Homo sapiens: one gene and its partners. The protein of the gene in region 6 purifies or fractionates together with the protein of the main gene of each other region. This does not show direct contact. Each region holds a gene or a part of one and is shown on either strand. Other genes may lie near its edges. The genes, in order: ARCN1, SPAG1, TMEM109, ESYT2, ATP13A2, ATL3 and ETFB.

Region 1 (3,500 bases), about 55 Mb from region 6:
TACTGGTTGGTGACATTTTTAAGTGGTAGTTATCAAGTTCACATATTCGTGACTCAGATTTCTCGTCTTGAAGCCAGACCTTCTACTGTTGCTGATGGTTTTGAGGTCAAGTGAAAGATAATACCAGGAGGATACCTTTATCAGGTGTGCATAAAAGAGGAGTATTTACTCTTTTTCTTTCTTCTTTCCTTTCTTTCTTCCTTTCTTTCTTTCTTGACAGAGTCTTGCTCTGTCTCCCAGACTGGAGTGCAATGGCACGATCTTGCAACCTCCACCTCCCGGGGTCAAGCAATTCTCCTGCCTCAGCCTCCCAAGTGGCTGGGATTACAGGTGCACGCCATCACACCCGGCTAATTTTCTTATTTTTAGTAGAGACAGAGTTTTGCCGTGTTGGCCAGGTGGGTCTCGAACTCCTGACCTCAAGTGATCTGCCTGCCTCTGCCTCCCAAAAGTGCTTGGATTATAGGCGTGAGCCACCGTGCCCAGCCAAGTATTTACTCTTTATATGCCCTGTTCTGTATGAAATGAACAGGGTTACATTGGGATAAATTTCTTGATTCACTAAAGCCGCTGTGCTCTTCCTAGTGGTTGCTTTGAGTGAGACAGAGGCTTCACACTTTTAAAAAGATATTCCTGAGTGCAGTGGCCCACACCTGTAATCTTAGCACTTTGGGAGGCTGAGGTGGGCGGATTGCCTGAGCTCAGGAGTTCAAGACCACCCTGGGCAACATGGTGAAACTCCATCTCCACTAAAATACAAAAAATTAACCCCTTCTCCACTAAAATACAAAAAATTAGATGGGCGTGGTGGCACACACCTGTAGTCCCAGCTACTCAGGAGGCTGAGGCAGGAGAATTGCTTGAACCCGGGAAGCAGAGGTTGCAGTGAGCCAAGATGGTGCCACTGCACTCCAGCCTGGGCGACAGAGTGAGACTCTATCTCCAAAAAAAAAAAAAAAAAAAAAATGTTGGAGATCATCACATATTAAAGAGAATTTGAGACACTGTTTTTTTCTAAATGATAAATTGCCTCTTGAGCACAGAGCAAACTTTTGTGAAGGTAAAATGGTACCATGCATTGTCTTAAGATGCACTCCTTTATGGTCTTGACTCTGATGCCTTTGTTTCTAGGAAGACCTAAGAGGTTGGAACAAAGAACATGGTAGGATAACAAAATATTTTTTGTAGCCTCTGTAGTTCATCCAGCCAAACGTATGTCTATTACTGAATATGAATAGATTGTACTTAATACTTGCCTCTAGCAGCAGCAGTTTTTAATCTTTTAAAAATTGGATTATACATTCATATAGTACAAAATTCAAAAGTTGTTAACAGTCAGAAGTCTTCCTCTCACTCAGCCATGCCAGTTTCTCATTTTGGAGACAACTAGTATTAACAGAGTTTTTTGTGTATCCTTCTAAGGGGGATGGTCTGTGATATACAGATGAATAAAAAACATGTATACAGTGTGTCTATTTTTCCCCCTTTTATGCAAAGCAGTAAAACTAGACACGTCTTCCAATTGCATTTTTCATTTAATTATTTTGGAGATAAGAATCTCCTTATTTGAAACTGCAGAGATATGACATCTAAATGCGCAATACCTTACCCTAGACTGGATCCTCTACTAATGTAGTGTAGAAAAAACAACTCAAACTGTTTGTTTTTTCTATTTTCTCATTCAACAGCAACAATGAACACAGAAGACTTCTGTGATCAAGTGTGTTTAGATTTTTCCGCACACATCAAGCGGTCACACCTAGCTGGTGTCCTCCAATTCAATTCAATTCTGATGCTATCTACCTGGGAATAGCCTCAGATTCTACAGGTTGAGAGTTCAGTCCCCCAAGACTGATTCTTCCTTCCCACCAGTCATAAGTCCAGACTTTCAGAACTTCTTACTGACCTCAAGTTTGGCCTCCCACGACCCCCTCTGGGGTGTTCAATTAATCTGCTAGAGCACCTCACAGAACTCAGGGAAACTTACTTGACATTTATCAGTTTGTTACAGAGGACATTTTAAAGGATGCAAATAAGCAGCCAGATGAAGAGATACATAGGGCAAGGTCTGGGAGGGTCTTGAGCACAGGAGCTTCTGTCCCCAGGGAGCTGGGGTACGCCACCCTCCTGGAAAATAGATGAGACCTTGTTCATCTTCCTGTAAGCCTGCATGTGTTCAGCTGTCCAGAAGCTTCCCAGACCCTGTCCTCTTGAGCCTTTTATGGAGACTTCATTGGATAGGCATGATTGACAGGCATGCAGAAATGTGACTGGGCAAGGGTATGACCTAATACTGATAGGCTGAGTGGGGAAACACAGCAAGGCCTGTCCAAATTCTTGGCCTCTCTGTGCAGCATTAATCTTCCTCCAGGATATGGTGCAGGACCCCTTTTGGAGATCCTGCCTTGGGCTGGTGAAAGGAGGGCAGGAGAAGGTCAAAGAGAGGTTCTTTTTTCTAAGGGCTGCTCCTGAGGCCTAAAGTGCCCCAACATTATGTATAATAAGGGATATGGGAGTTATGAGCTAGGAACCATGGATGAAAACCGGTATGTATGTATATCATAATATCACAACTACTATTAAAAATATTATTAGGTCAACTGACGAAATTGACATATGGTTGACAGATCGGATACAATTATTGTATCATTGTTAGCCTGGCATGATGGCACATGGCTGTAGTCCTTCCTACTCAGGAGGCTGAGGCAGGAGGATCACTTGAGACCAGGAGTTCAAGGTTATAGTGAACTGTGATTGTGTCTCTGAATAGCCACTGCACTCCAGCCTGGGCAACATAGCAAGATCTGTCTCTTAAACAACAACAACAGGCTGGGTGCGGTGGCTCACGCCTGTAATCCCAACACTTCGGGAGGCCGAGGCAGGCAGATCACCTGAGGTCAGGAGTTCAAGACCAGCCTGGCCAGCATGGTAAAACTCTGACTCTAGTAAAAATACAAAAATGAACCGGGCGTGGTGGCAGGTGCCTGAAATCCCAGCTACGCAGGAGGCTGAGACAGGAGAATCACTTGAACCCGGGAGGCAGAGGTTGCAGTGAGCCGAGATCACGCCATTGCACTCCAGCCTGGGCAAGAAGAGTGAAACTCTATCTCAAAACAACAACAACAAAAAGCTAAAAAAACTATCAGTGTAAATTTGTGAAGTTAATAATGGTACTGTGATTGATTATGTAAGAGAATATCCCTAATCTTATAAAATAAGCACTGAAGTATTTAGGGGTAAAGTGCCGTGTTGTATATAATCTGCTTCTTAATGGTTCAGGGAAAAAAAATCAAATGTATAACATACATATATAATGTTTAGAGAGAGAGAAACACAAGTGCAAATTATAAAACAAATGAGGTAAATATTAACAATAGGTGAATCTGGAAAAGGGTATATATGTCTTCCTTGTATAATTTTAATTTTTTTAAGCTTGAAAATACTTACAAATAGAAAGTTTTTTCAGTTGTTTGTTTTCTCACCATTGCCTACTATTCATT
Region 2 (3,818 bases), on a different chromosome or scaffold from region 6:
TGGTCATGTCTTGTTAGGTGCCCTTTCTTTCCCTCAACTTCTTCAGTGTATTGTGTGACTCATGGAAGATTAAATGTTGACTCTAGCCAATTCGAAGAGTAAACAACCTGGAAGGATTTTATGGAACAAAAGTATTATAATAACTACCATTTGCATAGTCCTTTATAGGTTTAAGCCACTTATTATTTGTTCATTTATTTCTTGGTACAGCCTTGTGAAAATTTGAATAGAGCTTTTGTTCCCCTTATGTTAAAGATGAGAAGACTGAAGCCCAGAAAGGTTAAGTAGGATCTTAAGTTTCATTGCTAGTAGGTGCTAATACAAGGATGAGTTCATTCTTTCATTTATTCATTCAGCAAGCAACAAGTGCTTATCATGTGTTAGGGACTGGGAAGGTTGTGGTGATACAGAATTTAACTTGCGTTTTCTAACTCCAGATCCTGTGCTTTTTCTTCTATAGTCGATGTTCACTGTATCATGGGTTATACTATTTCAGCTGCATATTCACCCCACAGGCTCACTTTGTAAGAGTGGTATTAATGTGGACCCTGCACACATACTGCACAGCTCACTACATCCACCCCACTCCCACTCAGGTTACTCTAGGCTCCTTCTATTTATGAAAGTTATTTTCTCTGTCTTCCTACTTACAGAATTATCAGAAAAGCTTAATTGATCTCAATAAAGTTATCCTACTAGATCCAAGTATTATTGAGGCAAAGATGGAACTGGAAGAGGTAACTAGACTCCTTAATCTTAAGGATAAGACAGCACCATTCAACAAAGAAAAGGAGAGAAGGAAAATTGAGATTCAAGAGGTATTTGTATTTGATTATCTTTGAAAGTACTCCTTTGGGGACCTTAGACTGGATTCTAAGGTCATATTCCTGTGAGTTCTAAAACATTTTTAATTTTGTGTTTTTATTCTGATGATCAGTGACAAAATTTTAACCAGCAACAAAATGTCTCCTTTGCAATGATAATTAGCCATTGTATTTCCCAACGTGGGTCCATGGATGGTACTGGGAGTCTCTGCATTACTGCAGTTCTTCCTTTCTTTGGCCTCCATCTGTACTGCTCCCACTCCAGAGTACACTGGGAACCAGCGGCCACTGACTTTGCTCCAGGGTAGACCTGGAGAATCCTGACGGGACTGATTTTGTTACAGGGGCCCTGAAAGCCTCACCTCATAGAGATTATCCAGATTGATTCAGACCTTTTTAGCACTCTGAAATATGACTGCCTCATCAGAGATCTCGAACTACCTCAGGATCAAACTGCTTTTGTGATTCAGATAACTAAAATGTTTTTCTCTGCCTAATATTAGGGAAGAATGTTAGGCTGTGAATCCCTGTACATTCATGAATGCTAATACCCCATTTATAGTCTCACATTTCCACTAAGAGTAAGAGGCTAATATGTAAGAGAAGCTAGGAAGGTTTTTTTTCCTCTTTAAGGAGGGAAGAAAAAACTGTTTTAGGAGAATCGAGCAATGTAAGTTCATTTCTCTGTTAAAATTTATTGTGAAAAGGAGATAAAATTGACATAGGCATTTATACAACAATTGTATAAAGTCTAAAAATTAAATTTTGTTGTCATAGTTTCAATGTCAAATAATTTTTTAAAACTTTTATGAATTGGATCTTACACCCTAAAACTTCTCTTCCTAAAAAAAATTATTACAAAGTTTTCACTTGGAACTGGACTACAGTACAGTCTACTTGTAGTTTTCAATTCTCATTCTGACAGACGTACTTAGGATGTATGTGGTGATTGTGGTTCAGTGTCACAATGCATTTTTCTTTTCTTCATGAAGGTGAATGAAGGCAAGGAGGAGCCTGGAAGACCTGCAGGGGAGGTCTCCATGGGATGCCTTGCTTCTGAGAAGGGAGGCAAAAGCAGCAGGTCACCAGAAGACCCTGAGAAACTTCCGATAGCCAAGCCTAATAATGCCTATGAATTTGGTCAGATTATAAATGCTCTCAGTACCAGGAAGGATAAAGAAGCCTGTGCACATCTTTTAGCCATCACTGCACCAAAAGATTTGCCGATGTTTTTAAGTAACAAACTTGAAGGGGATACATTCCTTCTCCTCATTCAGTCTCTGAAAAATAATCTTATTGAAAAAGATCCCTCATTGGTGTATCAGCATCTTTTATACCTGAGTAAAGCAGAAAGGTTTAAGGTAAGTGGCTAAGTATTTTATTAGTAGAAATTGGTTTTATTAGGGTTTCTGTAACTTAAAAATGTTACTTATGCTAACATAGTTGGTTTTTTGTTTTTTTTTTTTTTTGCTTCTTTTAGATGATGTTGACACTAATTAGCAAGGGCCAAAAGGAGCTAATTGAACAGCTGTTTGAGGACCTTTCGGACACACCAAACAACCATTTTACTTTAGAAGATATACAGGCCCTAAAAAGGCAGTATGAGCTTTAAATCAAGATAATTGTTAGATTTCTTCCATGCATGTATGTGTTCCAGGAATGTTAATGAGATGGTATTGTAAAAGAGTTGCATGGATAAAACTTGGCCTAGAAAAGTTTGGTCTGCACTATAAAACATTTTACTTATTTTCCTACATAGAACATGTATATTCTACAATCTGCTTTTTATTAGTTGTAAATATTTTCTTATGTACCAGAACCAAATAAGTATATTTAGAACTTGTTAAAAATACATTTTAATTTATGATATACATATTATTTTAATTACTTGTTAAAATTTTGAGTTAAGTTGCATTTCTTTGGGCTATGAAGGAGTCCTCTTAAGTTTGATAGAAATGAATTTCTTGTAACATTCTTTTTTAAAAGTGGAAGTCATTAACAGTGATTATTATATCACTTATATCCTGCTAAGATACACATAAATCCCATTTTGTACTAGTACCTGTGGATTACAGTCAGTTAAAATGAAATGCAACACTGAAGTCTATAACATGAAATGATTATTAAATTGTTTATTAATTTAGAGCTATAAGAGGAACTTATTTTTTCTAATACGGAAGCATTGCCTAATAATTAAGAACAAAAATTGCCAAAAATTTCTACCACTTTTTACTAGATTTTAAAAAGCTACTTTCTTTTATATTGCCTATATAAGCAAAAAACCAACCACTGTATTAAAGCAAACTAAGCCTGCATTTATATCTGAATTATTACCTCCATATTTTACCAAACATTTGAATGTCCCCCTTCCCCCTTTTTTGTTTTCTGCTTTTATGACTGTATTTATTCCTTTACTGTAAAAGAATATGAAGAACTCATACATGTTGAAAGCTCCTTTGTTGACTGGGTCAAAGTGAAGGAATTTCAATCTCCATCAGTGTACTGTCATTTATTTCTGCGGTCTGTAGTGCGTTCCCCCTTTCTGGAGCATTTTCTTATTCACTTAGAAGTGAAGATGAAAGTTAGTATCATGTTTACTATTTCCATATTCATTATTATTTTATCTAATCTTTTATAGTTACAGAATATTTTAACTCATCTTGGGTAAATATCTTTCAAACTGTGCCATTTTTCTTTGAAACTGCTTTCTTTGTTCATAAGTGAAAAATCTGTAATGGGACTTTAGTCTTCAAACAAAATTTCTCCTTTTTAATGTTATTGAATTTTTATAAAAGTAAATGGTGGATTGTTAGAAATGTATCCTATGTATGGAGTTTACTTACAGAAATGGGACCACTCTTTTCCTATACATAGCAACTTGAAATTAACTTTAGAGACAAAAGGGAACTTTCTCTTTTGGTGCCTGACACAGTGACATTAATAACTGTAGGTGATTTTGTTGAGCTTTGTGATAGGCACTGTGTGTCATTTATC
Region 3 (3,393 bases), 2.7 Mb from region 6:
CCTAAATGTAGTATTTTTAGAACCCTTTCCTAGACTCTCCTCCTTCCCCCTAAGCAAGACTAGGACATCATTCTCTTCCTTCTCCATCCCTCATGGCTCTGGATTTATTGTCAACTCCCTGAGTGCCTGTGTAACTGCAAAAAGTTCAAAAACCTGACTGCTCCTACCTCAGGGGCATGGCTTAGCCTCTGATCATCAGGTCTGAATCATGAAAACTCCTGGAGCTACAGGTTCATTTCTGAACCTGGAGGGGAACAGGGAATTTGCTGGCGCTGTCTGACATTTCTCAAGCACAGTGGCAAGTAGAAGTTGAACTTGTGTACTTTTTCTTGGCTGATCCTTACCTGCTTCAATGAGTTGGCACTTGTTGGGTCTTAACTTGTCTGTGGCATTGTGTTACAAGACCAGAGCACAAAGCACAAAGTTGTTAGGTAATTTTCACCAGTAATTCACTGAGATGATTGGTAGATGCCAAGTTTATTTTAACTCATGAATAATCTGTTGTGTGACTTTTTTTTTTAAGCGTCTTGCTCTCTTGCCCAGGATGGGATACAGTGGCATGATCATAGCTCACTGCAGCCGTGACCTCCTGGGCTCAAGTGATCCTCCCCCCTCAGCCTCCCAAATAGCTGGGAGTACAGGCACGCACCACCACACCTGACTAATTTATTTATTTATATTTATTTTGTAGAGACAGGGTCTCCTATGTTGCCCAGGCTGCTCCCAAACTCCTGGGCTCAAGCAATCCTCCCACCTCAGCCTCCCAAAGTGTTGGGATTACAGGAATGAGCCACTGTGCCTGGCCTGTATGACTTTCTAAATCACTTCTGAGACTTAGTTGGAGACAATACAGCAGAGTTGTTGTGTATGAGGGGTCCAATGTCAGAAGTACCTACATTCAAATGCTGATTTCCCCAGTTAATACTTAACCTGCCTCAATTACTTCAGTAAAATGGGGGATAATAGCAACACCTACCCGATGGGCTGTTGTGACAGTTAAATGAGCGCGGTGGTGCATGGCAAGACCTAGCTGAATGTTAGCTTTTTATTAATAGTATTTCTTTAAAGGTTGTTCATTATACCCTTGCTCACTGTCCTCGTCCATTTTCTGCTTCCTATAACAGAATGCCACTGCCTGCGTAGTTTATAATGAACAGAAATTCATTAGGGTCACAGTTCCAGAGGCTGGGAAGTCTAAGGGCATGGCGCTGGCATCTGGCAAGGGTCATCCTATGGCAGAAGGCAGAACCCAGCACATGAGACAGAGACAGGAAATCAGGCCAAAGTCATCCTTTTTATCAGGAGCTGCATTCCTGGGATAACTAATCCACTCCCAAGATAACGGCATTAATCCATTCATGAGGGCTGAACCCTCATAACCTAATCACCTCTTAAAGGTCCCACCTTTTAATACCATCATCATGGCAATTAAATTTCTTTCTTTTTTTTTTTTTTTTGGTGGAGAAGGGGTCAAACTATTTTACTGAGGGGAATGGGGTGTCAAAGAAGTACTTAGGACCATGAGATCCAACATCCTTGGCTGGACTGGGAGCTCCCAGGCTCTGCAGGAGGTGCAAGAACAGTTAAATTTCAACATGAGTTTTGCTCTTCAAACCATAGCACCTCCATTGGGGGTGGGGAGGTGAGGTCACTCTGTATCAGTGGTTCTCAACTTCATGCAGTGGAACTGCCTAGGGAGCTTTTGCAGATCCAAGGCTAGGCCACACCCAGACAATGATATCAGAACCTCTGGGCTGGGGACACAGACATCAGTACTTGGGAAGCTTCCAGGTGATTCCAGTGAGCAGCCATGGTTGAGACCCACAGTATAACTTGACTCCTAATGAAGATGGGTGGAAGCAGAAGCTTGGGTTCAAATCCTGGCCTTTCTGTGTAGCCCAGTGACCATGGGAAAATGCTTAACTTCTGAGTCACAGTTTCTTCTCGTCTGTACCAGTAGGGGCGAGGAGGATAAAAGCCACCTCACATGATGGTCCTGCAGAGAAGATGACATATGTGCAGTTATTCTTGTTTGAGCACATAACTGAGCACTTTTCTTTATACCATTATATGGCAGTAATCCTACTTGTGTGCTATTTTTAAGTTGTTTTTTATACCAGCTGTATCTTAAGTAGATTATAAGCTCCTTGGGACAGAGCCTTTATAGAGTCTTATAATACTTTTATGCCTATAGCACCTAAGATACAGGGACAGGCCTTCAGATTTTTAGAACTGGCACAAACCTTAGAGAGATCTTCTCGCCAACTCTAAAGTGTTGAATAATACTTGCTGGTTAATTAATATGCAAGTGGTAAAGAATGTGAAAGAGGAACCTGTGAGTCAGATGGTTGTGCCCAGCTTCAGTTGGAAGTCCCAGTCCTTCCTCTCCCAGCTAACAGCACTTTCTTTCCAGGGTTAGTTTGGTGCTTGCTTGGGGTAGGGGTGGAGAAGGATGTTGGGATAATCAGAGCTGAGAGGGTGAGTGTGTCTACCATGGCACTCAGCTCACTGTGCTTCTCTCCTGGCAGACCCAGTCATGGCAGCCTCCAGCATCAGTTCACCATGGGGAAAGCATGTGTTCAAAGCCATTCTGATGGTCCTAGTGGCCCTTATCCTCCTCCACTCAGCATTGGCCCAGTCCCGTCGAGACTTTGCACCACCAGGCCAACAGAAGAGAGAAGCCCCAGTTGATGTCTTGACCCAGATAGGTCGATCTGTGCGAGGGACACTGGATGCCTGGATTGGGCCAGAGACCATGCACCTGGTGTCAGAGGTAAGGAAGGTAGTCCCTGTGTGACTACACACATTAAGGAAAAATAAAAGAAGAAAGGTTGGTAATGGCCACCTCATCTTAGTTCCACATCCTCTCTGGTGCAGAGAGCCCCAAATTCCACAAAAAGAAGCCACACAGCACTTGTCTTTGAATTCCTCGTTATTTGATTGCTGTCCTAGGGCCTTTTAGCTCCACCCCTATCCTTTCCTGGCTCCTGCCCTTTCCTTGCCAGAAAGGCTGGGAAATGAGCCATCTTTATAAGCCCATGTTACTGGGTGACTGTAGAGTCTCACTTTGGTCTAAATCTGACCTAGAATCTCGAAATGGCAAAATATCAAGTCCTGAATCCATTCCTTCACCTGCAGAAGTGGGTTGAGCTTATTGGGAGCCTAAGGCAGGGTTATCTTTTTTTACCTGGTGGCATCCCAAGCATGGTATCACATACTTTTGATAGGCTGGACTGAAGGGCTGAGACAATCATTTATTAAATCCATAATATAGTATAGCTGATAGACTCCTTTTTCACTGGAACATCCTATCCCTTTACAGATGTTCTCCACGCACCTTCATGACTCCCTGGACAGCTAGCAGGCCTCCAGTTTTATAGGGTGACTACTAAA
Region 4 (2,507 bases), on a different chromosome or scaffold from region 6:
ATCCTGTTTAGACTGTTAAAAGCAGGTTTCTGTACTTAAGAGTCCCCCAGACCTCCTGTGAGGTGAGGCTCTGTTGCAGTGTCGTAGGCTGTGTGTGTCTGTAAAGAAAGAATGCACATATGTAGACGATTAAGTGTATATTATAAGCTATATGCTGAAAATGGCTTCCATAGCCATGAGAACATCTTAAAACTATGTGTAAATATATTAAGGAAAGTATAGCTTTGTAATTTAAATTGGAGCTTTTAGCTTGTTTCATGGAACTATACAACTTGTGGGTAACTCACATGACCAAACAAACCAAAGTGCCTGTGACGGGGCGGGTGGCGTCTACCCACCCTCCCTTCTAGCAGATTCTTATTTTGTTTGAATTTATAAACAAGGCTGGTGGCTGTCTACCCACCCTCCCTTCTAGCAGATTTTGATTTTGTTTCAATTTATAACTTACACTTTGAACCATGGGTTTACTTATAATGGAGTCTGTAGCTTCACAGCATATTTCATGTAATCATAAAGACCAGTATATTCCCTCCTGCTGAATGACATGCGACTGTAAAGCCTCTTTATAAACCATTTCCAATGTTAGTATATAGGATTATTTGGGAAGCGTATCAATACCTTTATAGACAAATACGAACATGTATGCACACAAAACATTTAACTATGGTATTTATGGAAGACAGGTAACAACATTAAATCTAGTTGCTTTCCCTTAGTATTAGATTTGTTGAGGGTTTTTTAAAAATCAGGTCTGTTGAAAGTCTTCTGTCATAATCTATAAAGCAGCAGCACTCATGGAAATTGTAGCATGCCAGTAATTTTTACCAACATCCCATACATCTGAGTTCTGCAGTCCAGTGTGTAATCCGCTCCATGTGTATTTTGCTTAATGGAATGCTTTATTTAAGCACTTAGGCAGAGTAGACACAATTAAAGGTACAAAGCCCAGAGGAAGTGGTAGAGCAGCACCGTGCCTGCCCTGAGGCAGTGGAGTCAGTAGCGCTGTCCCCAGGGCCTTGAGTGCCTGGAGGTGCTTGGCCTCCAGTAGCTGCCTCCATTCTCTTTTAAAAAAAGGGGGTGATTCTGAGGCACTGAAGTGCCTCCCAGATGTGGAGGAGTGAAGCCACCATCGAGGCCACACTCAGCACTCCAGGATCCCAGCGATGTCAGACACTCTTGAGTTGTCAAAACGTTAATTTTCAGTTTTAAATAATCAGTTTATCTAAGAAAAGGGAATTTTAACTTTTCTACCTTGAGCCAAGCCAATGAAGGGAAAATTAATTAACTTAGTAAATTTGAAGTGCAGCTCTGTTAGCTCGTACATGTGGGTTCTTATCCTGATCCTGTGCCTTAAAGTAGGAAGGTGTTTCCAAGTTCAGATTAAAATAGAAGCAGCTGGCCGGGTGCGGTGGCTCACGCCTGTAATCCCAGCACTTTGGGAGGCCGAGGCGGGCGGATGACCTGAGGTCAGGAGTTCAAGACCAGCCTGGCCAACATGGAGAAACCCCATCTTTACTAAAAATACAAAAATTAGCCGGGCGTGGTGGTGGAGCGCACGCCTGTAGTCCCAGCTACTCGGGAGGCTGAGGCAGGAGAATTGCTTGAACCCAGGAGGCGGAGGTTGCAGTGAGCCAAGATCGCACCACTGCACTCCAGCCTGGGCAACAGAGTGAGACTCCGTCTCAAAAAATAAATAAAATAGAAGCAGCCTTGTAACTGTATTTACCATGATAATATATTCTGCACGGTAAGAATTCCTTTTACAGACATTCTTTATCAAGAGGTCGGCCCTTCTTTTTCAGGCACATAAGCCAAATGCAGGCCTGTGTGTAGCTGTGTGTTTTTTCTGTGGTTGCCGCATTTATTCCACCTCCAGCTGGACCCCCCACTGCAAATAGAGAACAGCGGTGGGGGATGGGGGTTAAAAAGTAGAGAACCTCCTTTCTGTTCAACTAATTTCACGTGACAGTGCATGTATTTATTCAATAAAACCTTTATGTTAGCTCAGTCGTGATTTGTTTTTCTCTGTCTTTTGAAGGGAGGTGTTCAGTGTGCAGTCAGATAATTTGAAAGGAGACGTCGTGCACTGTTTCATTTGCTGTCTGCACTCGCGTTTTCCCAGCAGCTACGTCAGAGCAGCTGACATCCTTCCTGTTGTTCCCAGCTCAGTTTGACTCTCCTCTGCCCAGCACATTACACTCCACATGTCAAAAACAGCTCTTCTAAAGGATAATCATACGTAGAAAAAATAAACTTTAAATGTGTTTTTAACTAGGGCTCTGAGAAGTGCAGCGGGGACTGCCGAGACACCTGAACATTGGAACACTGAGGGTGATACTGGAGTATCCCTTCCTGTTGCGTTCATTACTGGTGGTCTGGATCGACTTGAGTGGAGCCCTTGCGCTTTTCCTCGTAGCCGCTCGGCATTTCACACCAGGCACTTCCTTTCTCCTTGACTGTGGGCCTTTGACACCGGGCACTTCCTTTCTCCTTGACTGTGGGCCATC
Region 5 (3,500 bases), on a different chromosome or scaffold from region 6:
GCACTTCGGGAGGCCGAGGCGGGTGGATCATGAGGTCAGGAGTTCAAGACCAGCCTGGCCAATATGGTGAAACCCCGTCTCTACTGAAAATATAAAAAATTAGCCAGGCACGGTGACATATGCCTGTTGTCCCAGTTACTCGGGAGGCTGGGGCAGGAGAATCGCTTGAACCCGGGAGGCAGAGGTTGCAGTGAGCTGAGATCACACCACTGCACTCCAGCCTGGGCAACAGAGTGAGACTCCGTCTCAAAAAAAAATAAATAAACCGGGGAGGGGGATGACCAGATTCTTATAGTTCCCAGGCTAGCCAAGGAGCCAGACGCGTACTTGGGCAGTTAGAGTCTAGGATGGGGAACGCAGGCACTGACTCATGCGCTCATTCAACAGATATATTGAGGCTGGGCGTGGTGGCTCATGCCTGTAATCCCAGCACTCTGGGAGGCCAAGGCGGGTGGATTGCCTGAGGTCGGGAGTTCGAGACCAGCCTGACCAACATGGTGAAACCCCGTCTCTACTAAAAATACAAAAATTAGGTGGGCGAGGTAGCGCGTGCCTATAATCCTAGCTGCTCGGGAGGCTGAGGCAGGAGAATCACTTGAACCCGGGAGGTGGAGGTTGCAGTGAACTGAGATTGCGCCACTGCACTCCAGCGCGGGCGACAGAGCAAGACTCCATCTCAAAAAATAAAAATAAATAAAAATAAAAATAAATAAATAAATAAATAAATAAATGAGAGAGAGAGAGCGAGCCAACCGTGGGCCGGGTCCTTAACCACAATGCACAAGTGTGGGGAAGTGAAGAGGCCATGGGTAGGAGCCCAGAGCAAACCACCTGCCCTAACTTGGGAGTTAAGGAGGAAGACACCCTGGAAGAGATGATGCTAGACAGAGAGACGGTGGGGGCTGGGGAGGGGGACCCCAGCAGAGGGAATCACATGTGCCAAGGACAGCAGTCAAGAAAGGTCATCTTTTGGCTCCAGCTCGAGTTCCTGGGGTTCCCATAGGGTCCGCCGGGCCTGGGGTTTGGAGGCCCAGCTCAGCAGGGTACCCCCATCCCAGGACTCATCGCTGCCCCACCCACCTGTCTCCCACAGACGGGCACCCTCACTGAGGACGGCTTAGACGTGATGGGGGTGGTGCCCCTGAAGGGGCAGGCATTCCTGCCCCTGGTCCCAGAGCCTCGCCGCCTGCCTGTGGGGCCCCTGCTCCGAGCACTGGCCACCTGCCATGCCCTCAGCCGGCTCCAGGACACCCCCGTGGGCGACCCCATGGACTTGAAGATGGTGGAGTCTACTGGCTGGGTGAGGAGGCCAAGCAGGTCAGCCCCCTGCCTCTGGGCAGTGGGGCCTAACGAATCCCACCCTGTCTTCCCTCTCCATCTTTCAGGGTGGTCTCTTATTATGCCCACCATTAATAATAATAGGCCAGGCGCAGTGGCTCACACCTGTAACGTGGCTCCCGGCGCTTTGGGAGGCCAAGACGGGAGGATCACTTGAGCCCGGGACCCCAGCCTGACCTACATGGCAAAACCCCATCTCTGCCAAAAATACAAAAATTAGCCGGGCGTGGTGGTGCATGCCTGTAGTCCCAGGAGGCTGAGGTGGGAGGATTAATTGAGCCCGGGAGGGCGAGGCTACAGGGAGCTGTGATCACGCTACTGCACTCCAGCCTGGGTAACAGAACGAGACCCTGTCTCAAAAAATAATAATGATAGGCCAGGTGCAGTGACTCATGCCTGTAATTCCAGCACTTTGGGAGGCTGAGGTGGGCAGATCACCTGAGGTCGGAAGTTTGAAAGCAGCCTGGCCAACATAGTGAAACCCCGTCTGTAATAAAAATACAAAAATTAGCCAAGTGCGGTGGAACATGCCTGTAGTCCCAGCTACTTGGGAGGCTGAGGGCAGGAGAATCATTTGAATCCGGGAGGCAGAGGTTGCAGTAAGCCGAGATCACACCACTGCACTCCAGCCTAGGTCACAGAGTAAGACTCTGTCTTAAAATAAAAGTAACATAATAATAATGGCAAGGCCTCAGGCTGAGTGCCTACTATGCGCCAGCGCACGGCCACAGAGGCCTGGTCTCATTTCCTCTTCCCCAAGCCCTAGCAAGCAAGCTCAAATGTTGCTTCACGGATGCTGAGGCTGGGAGATTTGGAGTGACGTATTCCAGGTCACCCAACAGCTTGTAAGTAGCAAAGCTAGAGTTTGAATTTGAGTCCACCGGGCTCCAAAGCCCACATTCTTAACCCACCATTCAGTCTCCCATGAAGGAAGTCTTCCCTGAGTCTAGCTCAAATCTCTCTGTGAGCCAAAGCCCCCAGACACCAAACTTCCCTGCCTGCCTGCCAGGTCCTGGAGGAAGAGCCGGCTGCAGACTCAGCATTTGGGACCCAGGTCTTGGCAGTGATGAGACCCCCACTTTGGGAGCCCCAGCTGCAGGCAATGGTGAGCTGAGGGGGGCCTGTTGGGTGCAGGGCAGAGGGGTGGGCTCCCCAGCCAGCACCTCAGCTGCCTCTCCAACCCTGCAGGAGGAGCCCCCGGTGCCAGTCAGCGTCCTCCACCGCTTCCCCTTCTCTTCGGCTCTGCAGCGCATGAGTGTGGTGGTGGCGTGGCCAGGGGCCACTCAGCCCGAGGCCTACGTCAAAGGCTCCCCGGAGCTGGTGGCAGGGCTCTGCAACCCCGAGACAGGTGCAGGGGGAAGCCCCTGAGTCCCCCTGGTTGGGCATTGGCACAGAATGGGGTGGGTACCCAGCCTCTGTCCCTGCCATCCCCTCCTTGTGACACCTGCCTCTCCCTGGCAGTGCCCACCGACTTCGCCCAGATGCTGCAGAGCTATACAGCTGCTGGCTACCGTGTCGTGGCCCTGGCCAGCAAGCCACTGCCCACTGTGCCCAGCCTGGAGGCAGCCCAGCAACTGACGAGGTGGGCCTGTCTCCTGTCCCACCCACTCTGAGGACTAGGCAGAGGGAGGCTCTCACGCAGGCAGAGCCCAAGGAAGATGCCCTGCCTGGTGGCTGGGAGAGGGGCCCTGGCCACTGCATGACCTCTGATCCAGGTCTGCCCACCCTCCAGGGACACTGTGGAAGGAGACCTGAGCCTCCTGGGGCTGCTGGTCATGAGGAACCTACTGAAGCCGCAGACAACGCCAGTTATCCAGGCTCTGCGAAGGACCCGCATCCGCGCCGTCATGGTGACAGGTACAATGGCATGTAGGGGCCCGGGCTAGCAGGGCAGAATCCGCCCCTTCCTGGCAGAGAAGAGGGGCACCAGGGATTCCTTTTTGGGGCATCTTTTTGGGCCCTTGCTTCAGGCCAGGTCCTTTTTAAACATTTCGTGAATCTTCACAATATCCCCCCCGCAAGTGGTAATTGTCACCCCTGTTTGACAGATGAGGAAACTGAGACTCAGAGGAGTGGAGTGACTTCCAAGGAACCCATGTGCGCTGTCAGACAGCCTGGGTTCCAGGTGGCACCTCTGAGAAATGGGGATAATGATGTCAGCC
Region 6 (3,500 bases):
CCCAGCACTTTGGGAGGCTGAGGCAGGTGGATCACAGGGTTAGGAGTTCGAGACCAGCCTGGCCAATATGGTGAAACCTTCTATCTACTAAAAATACAAAAATTAGCCGGGCATGGAGGTGCATGCCTGTGGTCCCAGCTGCTCGGGAGTCGCTTGAACCCGGGAGGCGGAGGTTGCGCTGAGCCAAGATCGCGCCACTGCACTCCAGCCTGGGCAACAGAGCGAGACTCCGTCTCAAAAAAAAAAAACAAAAAAACAATAGCTTATTGTATGTGCTGTGTGTCATTACATTGATATTGCTCATTACATTCACATTGCTCAGTACGCTTTTTTTTAAAAGACAGAGTTTCGCTCTGTTGCCCAGGCTAGAGTGCAGTGGCGCAATGTTGGCTCACAGCAACCTCTGCCTCCCGGGTTCAAGCGATTCTCCTGCTTCAGTCTCCCGAGTAGCTGGGATTACGGGTGCCTACCACCACGCCCAGCTAATTTTTTATATTTTTGGTAGAGATGGGGTTTCACCATGTTGGCCAGGGTGGTCTCGAACTCCTGACCTCAAGTGACCTGCCTGCCTCGGCCTCCCAAGGTGCTGGGATTACAGGCATGGGCCACCGAGGCTGGCCTCGCTCAGTAAACTTTTAATAGTGAAATAGATAAAACAAAAAGATCTGGTATGATGAACTTAATTGTAAAGTCCTGGAAGACTGTTGTGTTGGCTGCTAGGCTTGGCTGTATTTGATGGAGCCTCCAAATAAGTGATTTAAGCAAGGTAGACATTTATTTTTCTTTCACACAGAAGTGAACCAATATGGCAGTTCTGCTATACGAAATCTGACCTCTCTTGTTTCTCCAGCATTCCTGGGGTGTTGCCCTCATATGCCTGGCCCAAGATGATTCACTCCCACTTTTACATCTAGCCAGCAAGCAGGGGGAAAATGCCTGATCTGGAAGTTGTGTCTGTTATTTCCAGTCACTTCCCATTGTTCAGAATTTAGTCACCTGGTCATATCCTAGCTATAAATTTGGGTTGGAAATGTGTTTCTTCTGGGCAGTTGTATGCCCAGCTAAAAATCTATTATATAGCAGGAGGGAGAAATTAATATTGGGGGAACAACCAGACATCTCTGCCACAATCAAGACTTTGTTTTGTATTTCTTTGAGTGCTACACAGTACTTAACACTGTGGCTTATCCCTGAAGTCTGAATAAATTCTTCTCATTAGTTCTTTGTATGAAAGACTGAAGGTCTTTGGATCTTGGATTTACCTGCTGCTGGGGCAATAAGAACCCTAAGAGATTATTCACAGAAGTGTTTCCTTTTTAATCCAGGCAATAACAGGAAAGAAAAGTATTAGTATACATTGATTACAATGATAGCATGACATTTAACCTATATTTATAACTTGTTTTCCAATAGTCTGCAAAAACTTAAAAAGTAGGAAGAAGCCAGCCACAGTGGCTATCATCCACATTCACAGTGGCCTATCATCCCAGCATTCTGGGAGGCTGAGGTGAGAGGATCACTAGAGCCCAGGAGTTTGAGACTAATGTGGGCCACATAATGAGACCCCCATCTCTACAAAAAAATTAAAAAATTAGCCAGGCATGGTGGCACACACCTGTACTGCCAGCTACTCTGGTGGCTGAGGTGGGAGGATTGCTTGAACCCAGGAGTTTGAGGCTGCAGTAAGCTAGGATTGCACCACTGCATTCCAGCCTGTGTGCCAGAGCAAAATACTGTCTCCAAAAAAAAAAAAAGTGCGAAGAACCCTTCTGTTGCTATCTGATACTATAAATGTAAAAAGTGAGCAGCAATTCCAGTAGCTTGAAGGGGAGAGAGTCTTGCAGTCAAACTGTTTTGTCTGCTTTGCCTGCCATGATCGTGTAGCCTTCAGTGCTGGTTAGACAAAGTCATTTTGGAACCATCTTTGTGATTTTGGCCATGTCTGCCTGTCAGTACTAAGCTTTACTTACTATGTCTCCTTAAGTCTACTTTAAATGGACTTCTTGGCTGGGTACTGTGTCGCTGTGATTTTGGCCATGTCTGCCTGTCAGTACTAAGCTTTACTTAATATGTCTCCTTAAGTCGACTTTAAATTGACTTCTTGGCTGGGTACGGTGTCGCTGTAATCCCAACACTTTGGGAGGTTGAGACGAGTGGATCATTTGAGCTCAGGAGTTCAAGACGGGCCTGGGCAACATGGTGAAACACTGTCTCTCCAAAAATACAAAAATTAGCTGGGTGTGGTGATGAATGCCTGTAGTCCCAGCTACTTGGGAGGCTGAGGTGGGAGGATGACTTGGGCCGGAGAGGCAGAGGTTGCAGTGAGGCAAGATTGTGCCATTGCACTCCAGCCTGAGTTATAGAGCCAGACCTTGTCTTAAATAAATAAACAGACTTCTTAAACTTAGCATCCTTCTAAAGAATAATTTATCAAAATACAGATTTGTTGTTTTAAAGTATACATTAACATGCATAATTATTAAAATTACTATGTCCTTTTAACTACCTAAAAACATCTTTAATACCAGTGACACATACTCTTAGGGAAATAGTTCTTTATTCATTCCTTACGCCCCACTGGTAGTTTTTTGTGAACTTCCCATAAGTCCACAGCTACTAAGTGGCTCTGAATTTCTTTCTTTCTTTCTTTTTTTTTTTTTTTTTGAGATAGAGTCTTGCTCTGAAATCTAGGCTGGAGTGCAGTGGCACGGTCTTGGCTCACTGCAGCCTCCACCGTGCAGGTTCAAGTAATTCTCCTGCCTCAGCCTCTGGAGTAGCTGGGATTACAGGCACCCACCACCACGCCCGGCTAATTTTTGTATTTTTAGTAGAGATGGAGTTTCACCATGTTGGACCAGGGTGGTCTCGAACTCCTGACCTCAGGTGACACGCCTGCCTTGGCCCCCAAAGTGCTGGGATTACAGGTGTGAGCCACCATGTCTAGCCTGAATGAATTTCCTTCTTGCTTTCTTTTCACTTTTTTTTTTTGAGACGGAGTGTCACTCTTTTGCCCAGGCTGGAGTGCAGTGGTGCAATCTCAGCTCACCACAACCTCCACCTACTGGGTTCAAGCGATTCTCCTGCCTCAGCCTCCTAAGTAGCTGGGATTACAAGCACGTGCCACCACACCGGGCTAATTTTGTATTTTTAGTAGAGATGGGGTTTCTCCATGTTGGTCAGGCTGGTCTGGAACTCACAACCTCAGGTGATCTGCCCGCCTCGGCCTCCCAAAGTGCTGGGATTGCGCAGGTGAGCCAGCACGCCCGGCCCCTTGCCTTCTCTTCTCTTCTCTTCTCTTTAAGACAGTCTCTCGCTATATTGGCCAAGTTGGTCTTGAACTCCTGGCCTCAAGCAATCCTGCCATCTCAGCTTCTCTAAGTGCTAGGATTACAGGCGTGGATGCTGTGCCTGGCCTGAATTTCAAATTAATTAGTTATCTTTGTGCTTTGGTAGGGAAACTCTGGTAAGGAAAGTATAATATAGTTAGTGCTTAATTTTGA
Region 7 (3,500 bases), on a different chromosome or scaffold from region 6:
ACGCCACCATGACCTGCTAATTTTGTTTTTTGGTAGAGATGAAGTCTCTCTATGTTGCCCAGGCTGGTCTTGAAATCCTGGGCTCCAGTGATCCTCCTTCCTCAGTCTCCTAAGGTGCTGGGATTACAGGCATGAGCCATCATTATTTAAAAAACAAACAAGCTATCATTTTTCAGCCCTACCATTGTTTCCTGACTTATGTAATATAACTAAACTGTTTTTGAAGCTTAAAATCAACTCAAGCTTAATTGAGAAGATGAGCTAGTTTGTTTCCTCAGGTGTGTGTGCGTGCGTGTGTGTGTGTGTGTCTGGAAAGTTCTTACCCTTTCTCCTCAGGAGTCAGGAGCCTGGGAATCAGGAGCTTAGGGCTGGGAGTTCTGCCAGAGCAAGAGCAAGATGTGGCTTGAGGCCCTTCAGAAGCCTCCCTGACTCACAGCAAGAAGCTTGGGGCCTCTTACTGATGGGTGGATGAGGTTCTTTTCTGTCTTAAAGGGGCAACTCCTATGTTGTGTTTTTTTTTTTAAGAAAAAAGGCCAGGCACTGCGACTCACACCTGTAATCCCATCACTTTGGTAGGCTGAAGCAGGCGGATCACTTTAGGCCAGGAGTTCCAGACCAGCCTGGGAAACACGGGGAAATCCTTTCTCTACAAAAAGTAAAAAAAAAAAAATTAGCCCGGCATGATGGTGCCCGCCTGTGGTCCCAGCTACTGGGGAGGCTGAAGTGGGAGGATCACCTGAGCCCGGGAGGTGGAGGTTGCAGTAAGGCAAGGTGGCACCTCTGCACTCCAGCCTGGGCAACGAGAGAGATGAAAATAACAGTTCTTTCTCTTTCCTCTCCTCTTCCAGCTCCTTCTCCTCTTTCTCCTTTTTCTTTTTCTTTTTCTTTTTTGAGATGAGGTCTTGCTCTGTCACCCAGGTTACATGTAGTGGCATGATCACGGCTCACTGCACCCTTGACCTCCTGGGCTCAGGTGATCCTCCCGCCTCAGCCTCCTGAGTAGCTGGGACTACAGGTGTGTGCCACCATACCTGGCTGTTTTTTTTTTTTTTTTTTTGTTGTTGTTTGTTTGTTTGTTTTGAGGCGGAGTCTTGCTCTGTCGCCCAGGCTGGAGTGCCGTGGCGCAATCTTGGCTCATTACAACCTCCACCTCCTGGGTTCAAGCAATTCTCCCTGCCCCAGCCTCTGAGTAGCTGCAATTACAGGCGTGCACTACCATGCCCGGCTAATTTTTTATTTTATTTTTATTTTTAGTAGAGATGGGGTTTTGCCATGTTGGCCAGGCTGGTCTTGAACTCTTGACCTCAGGTGATCCGCCCACCTTGGCCTCCCAAAGTGCTGGGATTACAGGCATGAGCCACCACGCCCAGCTGTTTTTGTTTTTGTTGTTGTTGTTTGTAGAACCTGTTGCCCAGGCTAGTATCCAACTCCTGGGCACAAGTGATCCTCCCACCTTGGCCTCCCAAATTTCTGGGATTACAGACAGGAGCCACTGCGCCCGGTCTCAGTCCTCCATCTTTTAATGTTACCCTCTCCATGAGGCACAGCCAGAGTGGGAAGCCCCTTATGGGTCCCACCTTCTCATCTCGGATTCTGTCCTGCCTGTGGGAGGAACAGTTACACCCACAGCCCCAGAGAAAAAGGGGCAGGGAAATAGCAAGAGCATCCCAGTGTCCTCACCAGGCTCAGCTGCCACCCGAGATCTGCTCTGGCCAAGCCCTGGGTGGCGGCCACATGGGAGAAGAGGAAGAGGGCAGGCTCCAGGCCAAATGGGGCAGCTCCCTAGCAAGGCTTCTGTGGATGTCCCTGGAGGCTTTTTAAAAATTTGTGCCCCAAACCAAACTCGCCGTCTTCCCGGCTCTGGCTGATGTACTGACTGGAAGCCCCTTTTTGGTGTCATCTTCCCATCACGAACCATGGCCTGTCAGTTGCACCTCCAGAAACCTCTTGCATCTGTCTCTGCTGTCACAGCTGTCTGAGCCACTGTCACCTCTCACTTTGGTGACAAACAGCCACCCAGCTCTCTCCCCACTTCCTCTCATCCTTTTCCAATTTTCTCCACCAAGAATCCAGAATGACCTTATAAAAACTCAGGTTGGGCCAGGAGCGGTGGCTCACGCCTGTAATCCCCTGCCTTTGAGAGGCCGAGGTGGGTGGATCACCAGAGATCGGGAGTTCGAGACCAGCCTGGCCAACATAGTGAAACCCTGTCTCTATTAAAAATACAAAAAATTAGCTGGGCGTGGTGGTGGGCACCTGTAATCACAGCTACTCAGGAGGCTGAGGCAGGAGAATCGCTTGAACTGGGGAGGCAGAGGTTGCAATGAGCTGAGATCATGCCACTGCTCTCCATCCTGGACAACAGAGCAAGACTCCATCTCAAAAAAAAAAAAAAAAAGAAAGAAAGAAAAAAAGGATTGTGGTGGGCCAAGAAATAAAATAGCCCTCCAAAACAGCCAGGTTTCAATCCCTGGCACCTGAGAAGGGGAAATCACTTAGAAACAGGGTCTTTGCAGGCTGGCCATGTTGGCTTATGCCTGTAATCCCAGCACTTTGGGAGGCCGAGGAGAGCAGATCACCTGAGGTCAGGAGTTCAAGACCAGCCTGGCCAACATGGTGAAACCCTGTCTCTACTAAAAATACAAAAATTAGCCAGGCGTGGTGATGCATGCCTGTAATCCCAGCTACTTGGGAGGCTGAGGCAGGCAAATTGCTTGAACCCGGGAGGCAGAGGTTGCAGTGAGCCGAGATTTCACCACTGTACTCCAGCCTGGGCGACAGAGCGAGAGCCCATCTAAAAAAAAAAAAAAAAGAAATTAGAAACAGGGTCTTTGCAGATGTGATTAAATTAAGCATCTTGAGATGGGGGCATTATCCTGGATTATTTAGGTGGGCCCTGAATGCCATCTCAAGAGTCCTTATAAGAGAGAGACAGAGGGAGACTAGACACGCAGAGAGAGGAGAAGGCCACGTGAAGACAGAGCTGAGGATGCTGGCATTGAAGATAAAGCGATGCAGCCACAAGCCAGGGAGTGTCAGCAGAAGCTGGAGGAGGCAAGAAACGTGTTCCTCCCGGGGCCTGCAGACCCCTTGGTCTCACCCTGGTGACACTGACTTTGGACTTCTGGCCTCCAGAGCTGTAAGATTCTAAGCCACCAAATATATGGTGATTTGTTACGGCAGCCGAGAGAAACTAATAGGAGAGTGGTTAGTGGTTCACGCTACACCCTGGTCTACACCGGAAGCCTCTCTCCCTGGCACATGATGGTGTCCCCAGGATCCAGCTCAGAGCCAGGCACACAGTGGGGCCCAGGAGAGACAAAAATGATGTGCAGAAGCAAATGGGTGGGGTTTGCCACCCACCTCCCTTACCTCCCTTGTCTGTTTAGCAAAGAGGTCTTTCATGCTGGTGTTTTCCAAATTAGGTTGTGACCATGTGTGATCATGACATCCAGGCAGAGGGCTGGCATTTTTCCGAAAAAGGGTAGAAAATGTCAGAG

Evidence for each region.
Region 1: the proteins of ATL3 (region 6) and ARCN1 purify together in Homo sapiens (affinity purification with mass spectrometry; one large-scale study listed by BioGRID and IntAct). This does not show direct contact.
Region 2: the proteins of ATL3 (region 6) and SPAG1 purify together in Homo sapiens (affinity purification with mass spectrometry; one large-scale study listed by BioGRID and IntAct). This does not show direct contact.
Region 3: the proteins of ATL3 (region 6) and TMEM109 purify together in Homo sapiens (affinity purification with mass spectrometry; one large-scale study listed by BioGRID and IntAct). This does not show direct contact.
Region 4: the proteins of ATL3 (region 6) and ESYT2 purify together in Homo sapiens (affinity purification with mass spectrometry; one large-scale study listed by BioGRID and IntAct). This does not show direct contact.
Region 5: the proteins of ATL3 (region 6) and ATP13A2 purify together in Homo sapiens (affinity purification with mass spectrometry; one large-scale study listed by BioGRID and IntAct). This does not show direct contact.
Region 7: the proteins of ATL3 (region 6) and ETFB purify together in Homo sapiens (affinity purification with mass spectrometry; one large-scale study listed by BioGRID and IntAct). This does not show direct contact.

Annotation. Positions count from the first base shown.
Region 1 is NC_000011.10:118,585,909-118,589,408, forward strand, and holds part of ARCN1 (coatomer subunit delta), read left to right. Parts: intron 1-3,500. UniProt on the Homo sapiens protein: Component of the coatomer, a cytosolic protein complex that binds to dilysine motifs and reversibly associates with Golgi non-clathrin-coated vesicles, which further mediate biosynthetic protein transport from the ER, via the Golgi up to the trans Golgi network.
Region 2 is NC_000008.11:100,238,587-100,242,404, forward strand, and holds the end of SPAG1 (sperm-associated antigen 1), read left to right. Parts: intron 1-653; coding exon 654-818; intron 819-1,816; coding exon 1,817-2,185; intron 2,186-2,304; coding exon 2,305-2,436; 3' UTR 2,437-3,318; downstream 3,319-3,818. UniProt on the Homo sapiens protein: May play a role in the cytoplasmic assembly of the ciliary dynein arms. May play a role in fertilization. Binds GTP and has GTPase activity.
Region 3 is NC_000011.10:60,917,158-60,920,550, forward strand, and holds part of TMEM109 (voltage-gated monoatomic cation channel TMEM109 precursor), read left to right. Parts: intron 1-458; exon of another isoform or gene 459-1,996; intron 1,997-2,528; 5' UTR 2,529-2,536; coding exon 2,537-2,773; intron 2,774-3,393. UniProt on the Homo sapiens protein: Functions as a voltage-gated monoatomic cation channel permeable to both potassium and calcium. Plays a role in the cellular response to DNA damage.
Region 4 is NC_000007.14:158,730,497-158,733,003, reverse strand, and holds the end of ESYT2 (extended synaptotagmin-2), read left to right. Parts: 3' UTR 1-2,007; downstream 2,008-2,507. UniProt on the Homo sapiens protein: Tethers the endoplasmic reticulum to the cell membrane and promotes the formation of appositions between the endoplasmic reticulum and the cell membrane. Binds glycerophospholipids in a barrel-like domain and may play a role in cellular lipid transport.
Region 5 is NC_000001.11:16,991,429-16,994,928, reverse strand, and holds part of ATP13A2 (polyamine-transporting ATPase 13A2), read left to right. Parts: intron 1-1,093; coding exon 1,094-1,300; intron 1,301-2,347; coding exon 2,348-2,443; intron 2,444-2,526; coding exon 2,527-2,686; intron 2,687-2,799; coding exon 2,800-2,920; intron 2,921-3,070; coding exon 3,071-3,195; intron 3,196-3,500. UniProt on the Homo sapiens protein: ATPase which acts as a lysosomal polyamine exporter with high affinity for spermine. Also stimulates cellular uptake of polyamines and protects against polyamine toxicity.
Region 6 is NC_000011.10:63,661,377-63,664,876, reverse strand, and holds part of ATL3 (atlastin-3), read left to right. Parts: intron 1-3,500. UniProt on the Homo sapiens protein: Atlastin-3 (ATL3) is a membrane-anchored GTPase that mediates the GTP-dependent fusion of endoplasmic reticulum (ER) membranes, maintaining the continuous ER network. It facilitates the formation of three-way junctions where ER tubules intersect.
Region 7 is NC_000019.10:51,356,389-51,359,888, reverse strand, and holds part of ETFB (electron transfer flavoprotein subunit beta), read left to right. Parts: intron 1-3,500. UniProt on the Homo sapiens protein: Heterodimeric electron transfer flavoprotein that accepts electrons from several mitochondrial dehydrogenases, including acyl-CoA dehydrogenases, glutaryl-CoA and sarcosine dehydrogenase.